Linked DNA regions of Homo sapiens. The protein of the gene in region 4 purifies or fractionates together with the protein of the main gene of each other region. This does not show direct contact. Each region holds a gene or a part of one and is shown on either strand. Other genes may lie near its edges.

What was found. The genes of interacting proteins can lie anywhere in the genome.
Region 1: the proteins of ZBTB7A (region 4) and PFKP purify together in Homo sapiens (affinity purification with mass spectrometry, with the first as the bait; one large-scale study listed by BioGRID). This does not show direct contact.
Region 2: the proteins of ZBTB7A (region 4) and ZBTB43 purify together in Homo sapiens (affinity purification with mass spectrometry, with the first as the bait; one large-scale study listed by BioGRID). This does not show direct contact.
Region 3: the proteins of ZBTB7A (region 4) and GCN1 purify together in Homo sapiens (affinity purification with mass spectrometry, with the first as the bait; one large-scale study listed by BioGRID). This does not show direct contact.

What each region holds. Positions count from the first base shown.
Region 1 is NC_000010.11:3,133,548-3,137,302, forward strand, and holds the end of PFKP (ATP-dependent 6-phosphofructokinase, platelet type), read left to right. Parts: intron 1-556; exon of another isoform or gene 557-751; intron 752-935; coding exon 936-1,035; intron 1,036-2,188; coding exon 2,189-2,291; intron 2,292-2,902; coding exon 2,903-3,032; 3' UTR 3,033-3,255; downstream 3,256-3,755. UniProt on the Homo sapiens protein: Catalyzes the phosphorylation of D-fructose 6-phosphate to fructose 1,6-bisphosphate by ATP, the first committing step of glycolysis.
Region 2 is NC_000009.12:126,832,540-126,836,039, reverse strand, and holds part of ZBTB43 (zinc finger and BTB domain-containing protein 43), read right to left. Parts: coding exon 2,127-3,500; 3' UTR 1-2,126. UniProt on the Homo sapiens protein: May be involved in transcriptional regulation.
Region 3 is NC_000012.12:120,156,716-120,160,215, reverse strand, and holds part of GCN1 (stalled ribosome sensor GCN1), read left to right. Parts: coding exon 1-74; intron 75-192; coding exon 193-391; intron 392-1,600; coding exon 1,601-1,756; intron 1,757-2,185; coding exon 2,186-2,367; intron 2,368-3,223; coding exon 3,224-3,304; intron 3,305-3,500. UniProt on the Homo sapiens protein: Ribosome collision sensor that plays a key role in the RNF14-RNF25 translation quality control pathway, a pathway that takes place when a ribosome has stalled during translation, and which promotes ubiquitination and degradation of translation factors on stalled ribosomes.
Region 4 is NC_000019.10:4,046,400-4,049,899, reverse strand, and holds part of ZBTB7A (zinc finger and BTB domain-containing protein 7A), read left to right. Parts: intron 1-1,655; coding exon 1,656-2,148; 3' UTR 2,149-3,500. UniProt on the Homo sapiens protein: Transcription factor that represses the transcription of a wide range of genes involved in cell proliferation and differentiation.

The sequences.
Region 1 (3,755 bases), on a different chromosome or scaffold from region 4:
AGCCTCCCGAGGAGATGGCAGTATAGGCACCCACCACCACACCCAGCTAATTTTTGTATTTTTAGTAGAGATGGGGTTTCACCACGTTGGCCAGGCTGGTCTCAAACTCCTGACCTCAGATGATTCACCCACCTCAGCCTCCCAAAGTGGTGGGAATACAGGCCTGAGCCACTGTGCCCAGCCAAAACATCTGAACTTTTAAGTGATGCCAAACATCACCAGCTTTAGGATTCTTTTGTTGGTGAGGTTTGAGTAATGGGGATTTTAAGGGAACTGTCAGCTTTCATGAAAACAGTGATACCCCCATTACTTGGAAATGCTTATTCAAATTAAACACTTCATCAAGTTAAAAACTGGAGCTTCCCTAAGATTTAAAATGGATTATCAGACATGTAGTATACTTGACACCCCAAGTCAGAATGACCTGGAATGAGCTGCACACAGGCACACACGTGTTATGAGCTGAGCCTGGGACACAGGGTCCAGGCCTCCTAACTTGCACACACTCCTTCCTCACCACCTCCTATTCTTATACTTTTAAGCCAGAGCCCATGAATCCCCTGCAATGATGATGAAATAGTAGGCATATGTGTGATCTTCTTAAAGAATCCACAACGGTTATCAGATTAAAGCTGTGACCCATCCCCAGCTCAGATGAGTTCATGAAATCCTGATTTAAGATTTTAAAATAATGAAGATTGTTAGTTGACTTGTTCGGTTTATTAAAATCCTCATCTTACTGAGCGGGGGGAACACTTGATACTTTTTCTTAACAGGCCAAGTTCAGGCTACGGGAATCACAGGTTTTGTTCTGTTCCAACTATAAGGACCTAGAAATAAAAACATGAATTCTGCAAAATAGAAATTGTCATTTCTATTTAACAGCAAAGTGTTACTGTATAACTGGTATTTCATATAACTCTAACCACCAACAGGGTGGGGCACCCTCTCCATTTGATAGAAACTTTGGAACCAAAATCTCTGCCAGAGCTATGGAGTGGATCACTGCAAAACTCAAGGAGGCCCGGGGCAGAGGTAAGGGGTCTGGGGAGGGAGGCCACAGCCTCGTGATGCAGGCCGTCCTGCCTTGGTGAAAATGCTGTCCTATCGGGGAGAAGTAGGGTGCTGGTTCCTTCTTCAGTTCAGTACTGAGCTGCACGTGATGTTTTACTCCTGATCTCTGAGTGTTGCTATTTAACCAACCTTGGATTCCTGGGATAAGATCAGCTTGGGTATGACATGTTCTCTTTTATCACTGCTAGATGCAGTCTGCAGTTCTTTTGTGCAGGCTTTTTGCTCTAGAGATCCTGAACGTTGGCCAGCAATTTCCCCTCACAGTTTAAGTGGGGCCTTCTATTTTTTGAATGTTTGCTAGGACAACCTCCTTGTGACTATCCATCAAAACTTCCAGTTTTGAGGAAGATCTGACTGCTGAATGAATTGTTCATGTTTGTAGAACTGCATGTTCGTAGAACTGTGCATGTTCTTCCTTAAATCAGTTCTGTAAGTTACATATTCTAAGAAATCTTTAAACTGAAGTTTCAAGAAACATGACTTTTTTATAATACTCTTGTTAATGGCTCCAACATGGCTGTTCCCCACTCATTCCTGAGTGGCTCTTTGTGCCAGCATCTTTCTCACCCCCACCCCCCTCAGCTTTCTTAATCAGTCATAGCAGATGTGTGCTTTTATTCCGGCAAACCACTATCACTGCCAGTGTCCAACTTAGAAAAATGACAGTCTATAAAAACCAGTGATGTGAATAGTTTCAATGGGTTTGTCTTTTTGAAGAACTGACTTTGGCTTTGATTCTTTCTACAGCGATTTTCTTTTGCTAATTTAGCTATGGATGCTTTTTGCCTCTCAGTGTGTGTATGTGTGAGCATAAATTAGTGTCCTGTAATTTAAGCTAATTTCCCTATTCCACTATTTAGTGAAAAATTCTCTCCACTGGGAGGAAAAAACAAAAGCTGCTTTCCAGGAAGCCCTCGGGGCAGTCCCACAGGAGCAGAGCTGCACGAGGCCAGGTGCTGGCCCCACTGCGCGGCTGTTCTCAGTCTCACTGGGCTTCCAGGCCGGGTTCAGCATGGTTCTGAGGAATCTCAGTTCTCATCTCGCCCCGTGATTCTGCTCCCCCACCTGCCCATGTTGACAGGGTGTTATTAATCTTTTTTAAAATCTTTTATAGGAAAAAAATTTACCACCGATGATTCCATTTGTGTGCTGGGAATAAGCAAAAGAAACGTTATTTTTCAACCTGTGGCAGAGCTGAAGAAGCAAACGGATTTTGAGTAAGTTGGCTGGGTTCCCTGAGGCAATAAGACCCCAATGTGAGTACGGGACAGGGGAATGGCCATTGCTGTTGCTGTCGGCAACTCATTCAGGGGTTTGAGGAACTGGCTTTTCTGAAGCTCAGTTAAAAAAATACTAGGTCTTGGCTGGGCGCGGTGGCTCATGCCTATAATCCCAGCACTGTGGGAGGCCGAGACAGGTGGATCACAAGGTCAAGAGATCGAGACCAACCTGGCTCATATGGTGAAACCCCATCTCTACTAAAAATACAAAAATGAGCCAGGCATGGTGATGCACACCTGTAGTCCCAGCTACTCAGGAGGCTGAGGCAGGAGAAATCGCTTGAACCCGGGAGGCAGAGGTTGCAGTGAGCTGAGATTGCACCACTGTACTCAAGCCTGGCGACAGAGCGAGACTCCACCACTGGGTCTTCGGGAATAATTTTAAACAATGGTTTCATTTGATCCTGAAATTGGCTTTATCATCTAGTTGATTCAGCCGACCCTACAAACCCTGTGTTTCTGGCAAGACCGCTCGCTGTGCTGGCCAGGCGGAGGCATCTCCCGCCAGTGACTGCAGGCCTCACTGCTGTCTCCTCTTACCTCCACAGGCACAGGATTCCCAAAGAACAGTGGTGGCTCAAGCTACGGCCCCTCATGAAAATCCTGGCCAAGTACAAGGCCAGCTATGACGTGTCGGACTCAGGCCAGCTGGAACATGTGCAGCCCTGGAGTGTCTGACCCAGTCCCGCCTGCATGTGCCTGCAGCCACCGTGGACTGTCTGTTTTTGTAACACTTAAGTTATTTTATCAGCACTTTATGCACGTATTATTGACATTAATACCTAATCGGCGAGTGCCCATCTGCCCCACCTGCTCCAGTGCGTGCTGTCTGTGGAGTGTGTCTCATGCTTTCAGATGTGCATATGAGCAGAATTAATTAAACATTTGCCTATGACTCCAACAGTCCTCTGTTTTAGTTTTTTAAGTAGGAGATTAGTACCTCAATCTATGGGTGGCTACTAAAGGTTTTCTCAGTTTTGTGGGCAAAGATTAGCAAAATATTTTTATAGGGATCACTGAACTATGCACACGTCATACAAGGAGAACAAAGCCAGGAGTTCACACAGGCCAAGGGGAAGGCCACGTTTACTCACCATTCCATATCTGCCATGTGTCAGTTTCCATCCACAGCAGCAGGCCGGGACCCTGGGCCTCGACCCCAGGCTCCTGCTCTCCTTTGAAAGTAAAACATGAATCTTAGTTACTTGTCCTCTTGATTGCAATCCTAGCTGCATGTTAAAACCACCAAGGGGTGGGTGGGGCGGAGGTGGGTTCAAAAATCTGATAGCCAGCTTCTCCTCCAGGCCAAGCCACAGTCCTCGCTGGGACCTAGGTTGGAACTCTCCGGAAGACTCCTGCCAGAGTAGACACGGCTGCTGGGATGACAGCCCTGCTGCCCTG
Region 2 (3,500 bases), on a different chromosome or scaffold from region 4:
ACCATGGGAGAGGGTGATCAGTTTTTGGCAGAACAAAATGGCATCACCACCTTAGTACTGAAATTAGTAGGAGTAATAGAACAATTTCTCCTCAAATATAATGGCTAGGATCATACCTAAAACCCACTGGCCTCTACCATGAGTGAAAGAAAAGGAGACAATAGGCTTGATTGTACAATCCCCTCAGTATACGTGTGTCAGGTACACAGAGAAAAGACTGCTAACCAGTAACGTTTCAATACTAAGAGAAGCTATTAATGTGGCAAACAACCAAGAGGTAATATCTAGTTTCTAGGTTTAAAAAAAAACAATATATATATATATTTATAATAAAGTTTTAAATACAAAGTGCTTTTTATATATCGAGAATGATACAGTGTTGTGAATAAATCCCTGTTTGTAATCTTGCTTACAAGAGTTAACTGGTAAATAAGTATTTTCTTTCCTCTTTCCAGACAATGTTCAACAAGTAAACACCCTGGTGTTAGGAGCTTGAGAATCAGAGGCCATTGCCAGCAATGTCTATTACATTACAGCAAAGCCAAACTTTTCAAATAAAATTTCACCCCAAATCCAAGAAAAATTATTTTTATTTTAAGAAAAAAAAGTTTCTATTTAGAAGTAAATAACCCAGTACGATTGTGGAAAAGATGACATGGTAGTAGCACCCTGTCCTACCCTGGTGATAACCTCAGGTATGTTACACAGCTTAAAAGCATGTGCAATATTACCTTTCTTTTTAACCTAAATCATCTAACTGATGGGCAGAAAAGGTCTCAGAATAGTTGCTTTTCTTGTTTGTTTTTTTAATTTTTTTTTTCTGGTCGGCGTAGCTTTGTGGACTTTTAAGTTTAAGCAGCTTTATCTATAATGTGGGAGCATGGTTCTGTAGACTACCTTGCTAAACTTAGGACTCCTTTTACAAACACATTCCAGTGCTCATAAAGAACTGGTAGTATTAGCTCAGTGTACCCTCTAAAGAGTATCTCCCCCACCTTGAAAGAGTGTATTCTCAAGATTCTTCTTGGGCAGTTTTGTCCCCCTTAAGTATAACCACTCATAGAATCCTGCCTATCTGCCCTCTCACTCTGGTTGGTGGAGTGTCACCTTAGCACTCTATGAACTACTCAAGTTCACAGGGAACTCTCAGCCACAACTTGTGGCTCCTTCTCACTAAGTGTGGTCATGGACCACTCTCTTTGTAAAGCACCATAATCTAAGACAGAGCAGGGGCTGTGGCAGCCCGTGGTACCGTGGTCAGTCACAGCAGCTTGGTGTCTACCAGCCACAGAGAAGACCCCACTGTATGGAGGCTACAATTAACCAAACAGGATTTGGGAAAGCAAACCAATGAGAAATACCTATCTCTGGCACCCTAGAGAATTACAATTAGATAAAATTGTCCAAACTCAATGTTAGAACTAAAATACAAAACACTGCCTTATCAAGAGTCTGAAACACCTTGTGACAGTAGTGGCATCTTACAGAAACTGACAAGGGCACTATGTCAGCCTTGTACCGTAAATTATCTGTTTCATATTTAGAAAGTCACTCTCTTAGCATCTCCATAGTTTTAGTTAAAATATCCTTTAGAAAGACTAAAACCAGACAACAGAGCTCTGTTAACCAATTTCTCATCCTAGGAATCACATTATTTCTAGCTTTTATATAAGTAGCACTTCCTTCAGTGAAATAGCTACCAAAACAAATCCACATTACCTAAGTATCTATAGCAAGAGCAAAATAAAATTTCAGCATGACCTTGTAATAATGAGTGATCCAAAGCTGCTGCCACCCAAAATGGAACTGGTGGGTGGAGTCCAGTTCCAAGTGCAGGTGTCTCTGTCCACCTGTTTCGATCACAACCAGTCAGAAGGTTTCCCTTGCCAGCTGGGCGGTGGGTTAACTCACCCCATTACCCATTCCAGGCCAGGACTGGAACACACAAATTTGAGGAATTAGATTTTTTTAATTGGCCTACTTAGAGCTGGTCTTTCAGAAATATCTTCCTTTTTTTTTTTAAGCTTCTCTCATAATAGCAAGTAGCACGCATCATCTGTGCCCAGATTTGCATTAATTACCATAGTTTATTTTTGTGCATGCCACTCAAGGGCCAGATCCTATTTTTAGTTAGCCTCAGTTGTATTCTGCTCAGCCTTTGCAGCTTCGTAGGACTTAGTACAAGAAGTCACATGCCGGTGGAAACTGTCCCTCCACATAAACCTCTTTGCACAGATATTACACTCATACGGCTTTATGCCTGTGTGAATTTTCATGTGGCCCACGAGATGGTGCTTCATTTTGAATTTCTTACCGCAGACCCCACAGCCGTAAGGCCGAAGACCGAGGTGCATGCTCATGTGCCGATCTCTCTGACTCTTGTGAGTGAAACTTTTCCCACACTGACAAGGATACAGCTTGTCAGTGGCTGAGAATCCTAAGTGGGAAGCTTCTTCTTTAATCCCTGTTACCATTTCAATATTCTCACTGTAACCTGCTGCGAGGGCAGCCTCCTGTCTGTGCCCAATTAGATTCCCATCTGACCTCTCTCCGGAAAACTCTTCCATGGAAGAGCCATAGAAATCCACCTGCTCATCATAATTGCTTTCATCAGCCTGTTCATCAAACTCAGCTTCCACTTTCTTCTCCCCGATGTGGAAGTCCTCCTCCACTCCCGAAGGCTGCACCGTGTGCTCTGTCTGCACGGTGTTGATGGACTCTGTGACCTGGTGCTCGTCGTAGGTCGCGTGCACATCCATGCCCTCGCAAGCCTGTTCTAAGCGCTCGGGCTTCACGTGGATCCAGCGTTTGTGAGCCATGATGCTGGGCTTGCTGTACATGGGCCGGGTGTAGTGGAACTCGGCGCTGTCGCTGGCGCCCTCCTCCCCATCCTGGCTTGCCATTTCCGTGCTCAGGCGGTCATGCTCTGTGGACGAGTTGCTGGGCAGGTATTCGTGCTCGGTGAGCTGGGATGACAGCTCGTCTTTGGTGCTCTCCTCTTCATTTTCACCATCTCTCAGTTCTTGGGCTTTGGGAAAATCAGTATGACCCCCAGAGCCCAGCTCAAAGCTCTCTACCAGGCCATTATAACTACTGCTGCTTGGTGACTGGTGGTCACTGCCATGATTTAGCTTCTGACAAAGGACTGTAGGGTTTCCCTCTAAAACTTCAGTGCATTTGTCTACCACATGCCACATCTGGAGGAAGCTTGCCGCTGTCAAGTAACTAACAATTTCTGGAGCGGGCATTACTAGACGTCCTGTATAACTAGATAGGAGAATGTTCTCAAACACTCTTGGGTTCATCACATCAGGCAAAACAATTCTCCTGCTGTTTTTCAGGAGTACCTGGTCACAAAAGTAGGGTGAACTGGCAGCAAGAACGGCTTTGTGTGCCCGGAAAATGTGGCCTTGGACAACAATGGAGACGTCACATAATTGTCCTTGCTGGCGCTGCTGGTTCAGTTTCTGTAGAATGGTGCTGGAAAAATCAGGAAATTC
Region 3 (3,500 bases), on a different chromosome or scaffold from region 4:
TGACCAGCAAGCAGAAGGAGATGCTGCAGGCCCAGCTAGACAGGGAGGCGCAGGTCCGGAGGCGGCTGCAGGAGGTGAGTGGCCACCTCCGCCACATGCTCAAGCCGGAAGAGTGCTGGGCAGCTTGGTCCTGCTGCTTGCTGTCACAAGCAGGGCCCTGCTGACCTGCCTTCTGGACAACTCTGCTTGCAGCTGGATGGGGAGCTGGAGGCGGCGCTTGGACTGCTGGACATCATCCTGGCCAAGAACCCGTCCGGCCTGACCCAGTACATCCCTGTTTTGGTCGACTCTTTTCTGCCCTTGCTGAAGTCTCCCCTGGCTGCTCCCAGGATCAAGAACCCCTTCTTGTCCTTGGCTGCCTGTGTCATGCCCTCTAGGCTCAAGGCTTTGGGTTAGTCCTTGTTTGCTGGCTGCAGGGATGGCCCAGGGGTGCCCCTGAGTGCTTGGACAGGGTGTGCCCCTGAGTGCTTGTGGGGAGGTGGGTGGTGACCTCAGCTGCTGAGTTTTGTTTTCTTGTGGAAGCAGCCTTGGAGACTCAAGCTGGATATGCTTAGGAGAGACGTAGTGCCTCCTCTTCTCTCCCACTTCACATCTGTGCCCTCCCTCTGAGGAGTAGGTTTTAGATGCTAGTCAGTGTTCGATCTTTGTATACCAGTTTTAAAACTAAGAAGTCAGAAGTTCAGTGGCAGTGAGGATGGTTTGGTGGCTCAGCCCAGCCCAGATCTCCTGAACAGCCACATGACAGCAGTGAGCAGAGGCCCTTGAGACCTTTAGCTTCCTCTTAGCTCTGGAGAAACAAACACCAGGTAGGGTGGCTGGCAGTTCTGGTGGCCTTGCTTCTGTGGGTTGTTTAGTGGCCTTCAGCAGACTTCTATCCTGGCCTAACGGTGATGTTCCCACGGGTGAGGCTAGAATCTGGGAACTGTTCTGAGTGGAAAAGTCAGCTGGTGCATATGAAACCTGCCAGAAGTGTCACCTGGCTGTCTGGGCTTGTTGCGTAGAGGTGGAGATGCTGCACAGATAGAGCTGTACTCTTGGCTGAATGACTCTTTGGTGGCCCTTGTCTCCTGTCAGCGTACTCATTTCTTAAATGTCCAAAGGGCAACTCTCTGCCTACCTGCCCTCTGAGGCTGTCACAAAGATCAAGTGAGAAATTAGGCTGGGGACATTTTGGCGAAGCAGAAAGATTTTTTTTTTTTTTTTTGAGACGGAGTCTTACTCTGTCACCCAGGCTGGAGTGCAGTGGCGCCATCTTGGCTCACTGCCAGCTCCGCTTCCCGGGTTCATGCCATTCTCCTTCTTGAGCCTCCTGAGTAGCTGGGACTACAGGCGCCCGTCACCACGCCCAGCTAATTTTTTGTATTTTTAGTAGAGATGGGGTTTCACCGTGTTAGCCAGGATGGTCTCAATCTCCTGACCTCATGATCCGCCCGCCTCGGCCTCCCAAAGTGCTGGGATTACAGGCATCAGCCACCGCGCCCAGCCGCAGAAATATTTTTTTAAGTCAGAAGGATGAGGCACTGGGTCCCCTGTTTTAGCCTGGGCTGGATTCCACATCTCTGTGTGTCATCTCCTGCTGGGTCTCTCCTCTTCAACACAGGCACTTTGGTGAGCCACGTGACCCTGCGCCTGCTGAAGCCAGAGTGTGTCCTGGATAAGTCCTGGTGCCAGGAAGAGCTGTCGGTGGCTGTGAAGAGGGCGGTGATGCTGCTGCACACCCACACCATCACCAGCAGGGTGGGCAAGGGGGAGCCAGGTAAGGGCTGGGACGGGATCAGGGGCACCAGGCGGTGTGAGCTGGTGCCAGGAATGCTGCTCAAGGCACAGCGTCACCCAGGGCCTCCTGAGCCTGGGGGATTGGACCATATGGAGGATTTCTGAATTGAACCTTCGTAGTCTGTGAATTGCAGTGAGCCCAGTTGAGGGTTTACTTTTTGTCACTGGTGTCCCCATCTCTGTTTTAACTCTCACATCCTGGAACTGGGCAGTGTTTGGCAGTAGAAGCAGAATTGGTTTTAGAACTGGACTACCAGCTGCTGTCTCTGTCCTCGTGCCATGTGCTTCCAGGTGTCAGAACGGGCCTCTGGTCCATCCGTTCCCTACTTTCCCTGAGGATAGAAATAGGCAGCAGTGGCCCGGGTCCCTGCCCTGCCTGCAGAATCTTATCTGCTTCTCGCTCTCACAGGTGCTGCGCCCTTGTCCGCGCCAGCCTTCTCCTTAGTCTTCCCGTTTCTGAAGATGGTGCTGACGGAGATGCCCCACCACAGTGAGGAGGAGGAGGAGTGGATGGCCCAGATTCTTCAGATCCTCACTGTCCAAGCCCAGCTGAGGGCCTCCCCCAACACCCCACCCGGGCGGGTGGACGAGGTTGGCAGGGAAGCTCTGCTCTCCTCTTGGTTTAAAGGGGATCAGGGAGGCAGGGCCTGTGGACACGTTTTGTCTCATGAACAGTTCCTGGTGGGGAAATAGAGAGTGTATGTTTATACCAACAGCAGCCTCACACAGTGTTGTGGGTTTTTTAAGGCAAAAACGGGTCAGACTGCTTCTTTCATGTGATTGTAGACTCTGGCTCTCCTGCCATGCCAGTACATGTCAGTTCACCTGATTGACTTTGTTGGCTGCATGAGATTCTGTGCTATGGATGTACCATGTTTTACTTAACTCTTTACCTGTTGATGAGTTCTTAAGGTTGTTTCTAACTTTTTCCTGTTTTGAACAGCACTGTGATGTGCCCTCTTGTATGTATATGCCCCTTACTTAACCAGTGTGAGCATTTCTTTAGGACAGGTTCATTGGACATGGAATTACTAGATTATATGGCATATTCTGAGCTATACTCTCACCAAGAGTTTTCTTTTCTCAAAGCCTTAATGCAACCTCAGATAGTATTAATATCGTCAGTGATGAGTGAAAGAATGATAATCTCATTTTATTTTGCATTTCATTTAAAGTTGAGTGTCTCTTCATATATTTACGGTCTTTCTGGATTTCATAGTGTGAATTTCAAGCAAGTTTCAGAATTTAGTTTTTAGTTCCTGAGGATCATGGTTGACTGGGGTTAGCACCTGTGGACCTAGTTGTAAACTTAATGAGGTTTCTGTGGTGGGGCCGGTTGTATGATCCAGAATGTTCCCCCGTGGGTGAGAGGATGCCCTGCCGTTGGCCGCCTGGGTTACAGACCTCCCCACAGCCTCATCTCGACTTACCTGCCGTTCTCTCCTAGAATGGCCCGGAGTTGCTGCCTCGCGTGGCCATGCTGCGTCTTCTGACTTGGGTGATCGGGACGGGCTCGCCTCGCTTACAGGTGATGTGGTTTTCAGTTGGCTGTTGCTGTGACTCAGTTCGTGACCCAGACCTCAAGTCCCAGTGTAAAGGGTGGAGTCCTAGTTTCCTTTCAGCCCTTACTTTTGGACTTTGGTAGAAAGACTGCTTTAGAGAGCCAGCCTGACTGTTGTTAGCTAGTGAGGGGTTTTGCTTGGGTCCTGCCACTGGAGCTGGGG
Region 4 (3,500 bases):
GATGGAGACAGGGCTGGGGAAGGAGGTGACATTTGAGCCCAAATTTGACTGTGAAGATCCAGGAGGAAAAAAGAAAGTACCCCGGACTGCGGGAGCAGCACATGCAAAGGCCCCAGCGTAGCTTGTGCTTTGCACCTTTGCACGTCAGGGTGGAGCCCAGATAGGGGAGTGACGCTGAAGTGAGGGGAGAGTGGGCAGTCCTGGGTGTCGTGGGGTGGGGACTTGGTTACTAGGGTGACCAACTGCCCCACTTTGTCCCGGACAGAGGGGTTTCCCAGGATGCAGGACTTTCAGTGCTAAAACCAGAACAGTTGGTCACCCTATCTGTCACCAAACACCTCGGCCGCCGCCAGCCTCGAGAGGGCAGGGATGTTTGCCTGTCTTGTTCCTTGCGGTATTTTCAGCACCTGGAACAGGGCCTGGCCCTCAGCGGGCGCTCGGCAAAGGTCTGTGGCATGAATGAAGGCACCAGGCACTGGCTGGCCTCATCCTACCCCAGGGGTAGGGGCAGGATGGAGTGGCAGAAGCCCACTGTCTCCTTCTGTGGTAGGGAAAGGGGTTCATGGCGGGCGCAGTGGCTCACACCTGTAATCCTAGAGCTTTGAGAGGCCGAGGCAAGAGGATCACTTGAGCCCAGGAGTTTGAGATTAGCCTGGGTAACGTAGCTCAACCCCCATCTCTCAAACTTACATATATATATATATATATATATATATATATATATATATATACACACACACACACACACACATATAGTTTAATAGCTATTTAATAGGGTGTGGTGGTGCGTGTGCTACTCTGGAGGATGAGGCAGGACGATGGCTTGAGCCCAGGAGTTCGAGGCTGCAGGGAACCGTGATCACGCCACTGCCCTCCAGCCTGGGGGACAAAGCCAGACCCTGCCTCTCTTTTTTTTTTTTTTTGGAGACAGTCTCATTCTGTCACCGAGGTTGGAGGGCAGTGGCGTGATCTGGGCTCACTGCAACCTCCACCTCCCAAGTAGCTGGGATTATAGGCCTGCGCCACCACGCCTGGCAGATTTGTTTTTTGAGACGGAGTTTCGCTCTTAAAAAGTGAAATTTTTTTTTTTGAGACGGAGTTTCACTGCAACCTCCACCTCCCAGATACAAGTGATCCTCCTGCCTCAGCCTTCCTAATAGCTGGCATTACGGGCGCCTGCTACCATGCCCGGCTGATTTTTGTTTTTTGTTTTTTTGTTTTTTGTTTTTTTAGTAGAGACAGGGTTTCACCGTGTCGATCAGGCTGGTCTCGAACTCCTGGCCTCAAGTGATCCGCCCGCCTCGGCCTCCCAAAGTGCTGGGATTTCAGGCCTGAGCCTCCGCGCCTGGCCTAGACTTTGTCTCTTAAAAAGTTAAAAAAGGAAAGGAAACGGGGTTCAGAGAGGCATAGCGTTTTCCCAAGGCCACACAGCACTCAGGGTCCGAGGCCCTCTTTAGATGTTCAGAATGCGAAATCGCCCCCACTCGTCTCGTTTTTCGAGGGACCGTCCCCATCGGGGCACCGAAACCTCTGGTGCACGGTCCGTGTTCTGCAAGGGTGATGATCCAGGGCCTGCCGTGTCCGTGAGGGTCCCTGGGCGGGGATCGGGGGTCCCCGGCCCCACTGACCGTGCCCGCCCCGTGCCCCGTCCACAGGCAGGACAAGCTGAAGGTGCACATGCGGAAGCACACGGGCGAGAAGCCGTACCTGTGCCAGCAGTGCGGCGCCGCCTTTGCCCACAACTACGACCTGAAGAACCACATGCGCGTGCACACGGGCCTGCGCCCCTACCAGTGCGACAGCTGCTGCAAGACCTTCGTCCGCTCCGACCACCTGCACAGACACCTCAAGAAAGACGGCTGCAACGGCGTCCCCTCGCGCCGCGGCCGCAAGCCCCGCGTCCGGGGCGGGGCGCCCGACCCCAGCCCGGGGGCCACCGCGACCCCCGGCGCCCCCGCCCAGCCCAGCTCCCCCGACGCCCGGCGCAACGGCCAGGAGAAGCACTTTAAGGACGAGGACGAGGACGAGGACGTGGCCAGCCCCGACGGCTTGGGCCGGTTGAATGTAGCGGGCGCCGGTGGAGGAGGTGACAGCGGAGGTGGCCCCGGGGCCGCCACCGACGGTAACTTCACAGCCGGACTCGCCTAAAAACCAAAAAGAGAAAACAGAAACCCGAGAAAGAGAGAGACAGAGAGAGAGAAAAAAAATCACCCACCACCCCCCCAAAAACACAAAAAAAGAAAATCTATCTATATACAGATATCTATATCTATATATATATATACAGATATATATATATGACGCGTCACAGAATCTAGGGTAGCGCTTTCTCAGATTTCCCTCCTTTCTGACGTTTTTCTCCCTCCGCAGGGGCCCCGGCCCTCCCTGGCTCCCCTTCCCCCCACCACCCCATCGCTGGGTTTCGGGGCTTGGTTTGGGGTTTTTTGTAGGACACAAGGAATCCGAGACCCCGCACAGCCCCCTGGGCACCCGGCATGGGGCCTGGGGCCCGATCCGAGGCCCTGGGCTGGGGGGAGGGTAGACGTGGGGGCGCTGGGGGGGGACTGGGGTGGGCTTTTAATTTCCTCCCCTCGCTGGTTTCTATGAGTCTTTCAGACAAGACCTTAAATGATTTCTGTCTGCTCTGAGCGGACGTTAAAATGGGCCCCCGTCCCCCGACCCGCACCCTCCTTCCTCAGGGCACTTACTAAGGGAGGGGTCTCCCTCTCCATCTCCCCAGTGGCCTCCCCGCCTCCAACCCTGCCTGCGGCCTCCCCCCGTCGCCCACCCCACGTCTCCTGGCCACTGAGACACAAACCTATTTATTTCTAGGCCTGGAGAAAGGAGATCGGACTGGGGTTCCCGGTGGGGCGCCAGGATGGCTCCTGGGGGTGCTCCTGCCGCCTTCCTTCACGGCACTTACAACCGGCGGGACCCCCAGGGACCACCCCTCAGGGCGCCCCCCCACCCCCGCCCGGTCCACCTAGACCCCCACGTTTGGAGATTCAAAACTTCTGTCTTCGTCCTCTCCCCCGAGCCCCCTCTCCCAAATTTTTAAAGCACTTTTTAGATTTTTTTTTCTCTTTCCTCCTTAAAAACAAAATTTATATATAGATATATATATATATATAAATAATATACTTTTCCTCAGAGGAGCAGGCAACAGTGTGGGATAAACAGAGTCACGATCAGAGGAACCCCAGGGTCTGGTGATGGCAGGGATGGGGGGAGAGAGAGAAAATCCACAAATTCCAATGTCACAAAAGCAATAAAACAAACTAGAAAAAAAAAAGGTTTTACAAAATGAAAGGAAGGAAAAAAAAAAAGGCAACCAACCACATTAGAAGTCTTGGCACTTTGTAACGGAACGGGTACTACACTTTATCTTAATTCTTAATTTAAAAACATGTTTACAAGTTACAACCAACTTCTATGAAAAGTTGAAAAGACAAAAAAAAAAAAAAAAAGCGAGCGAGAGAGAGAGCGAGAGAGAGAGCGAG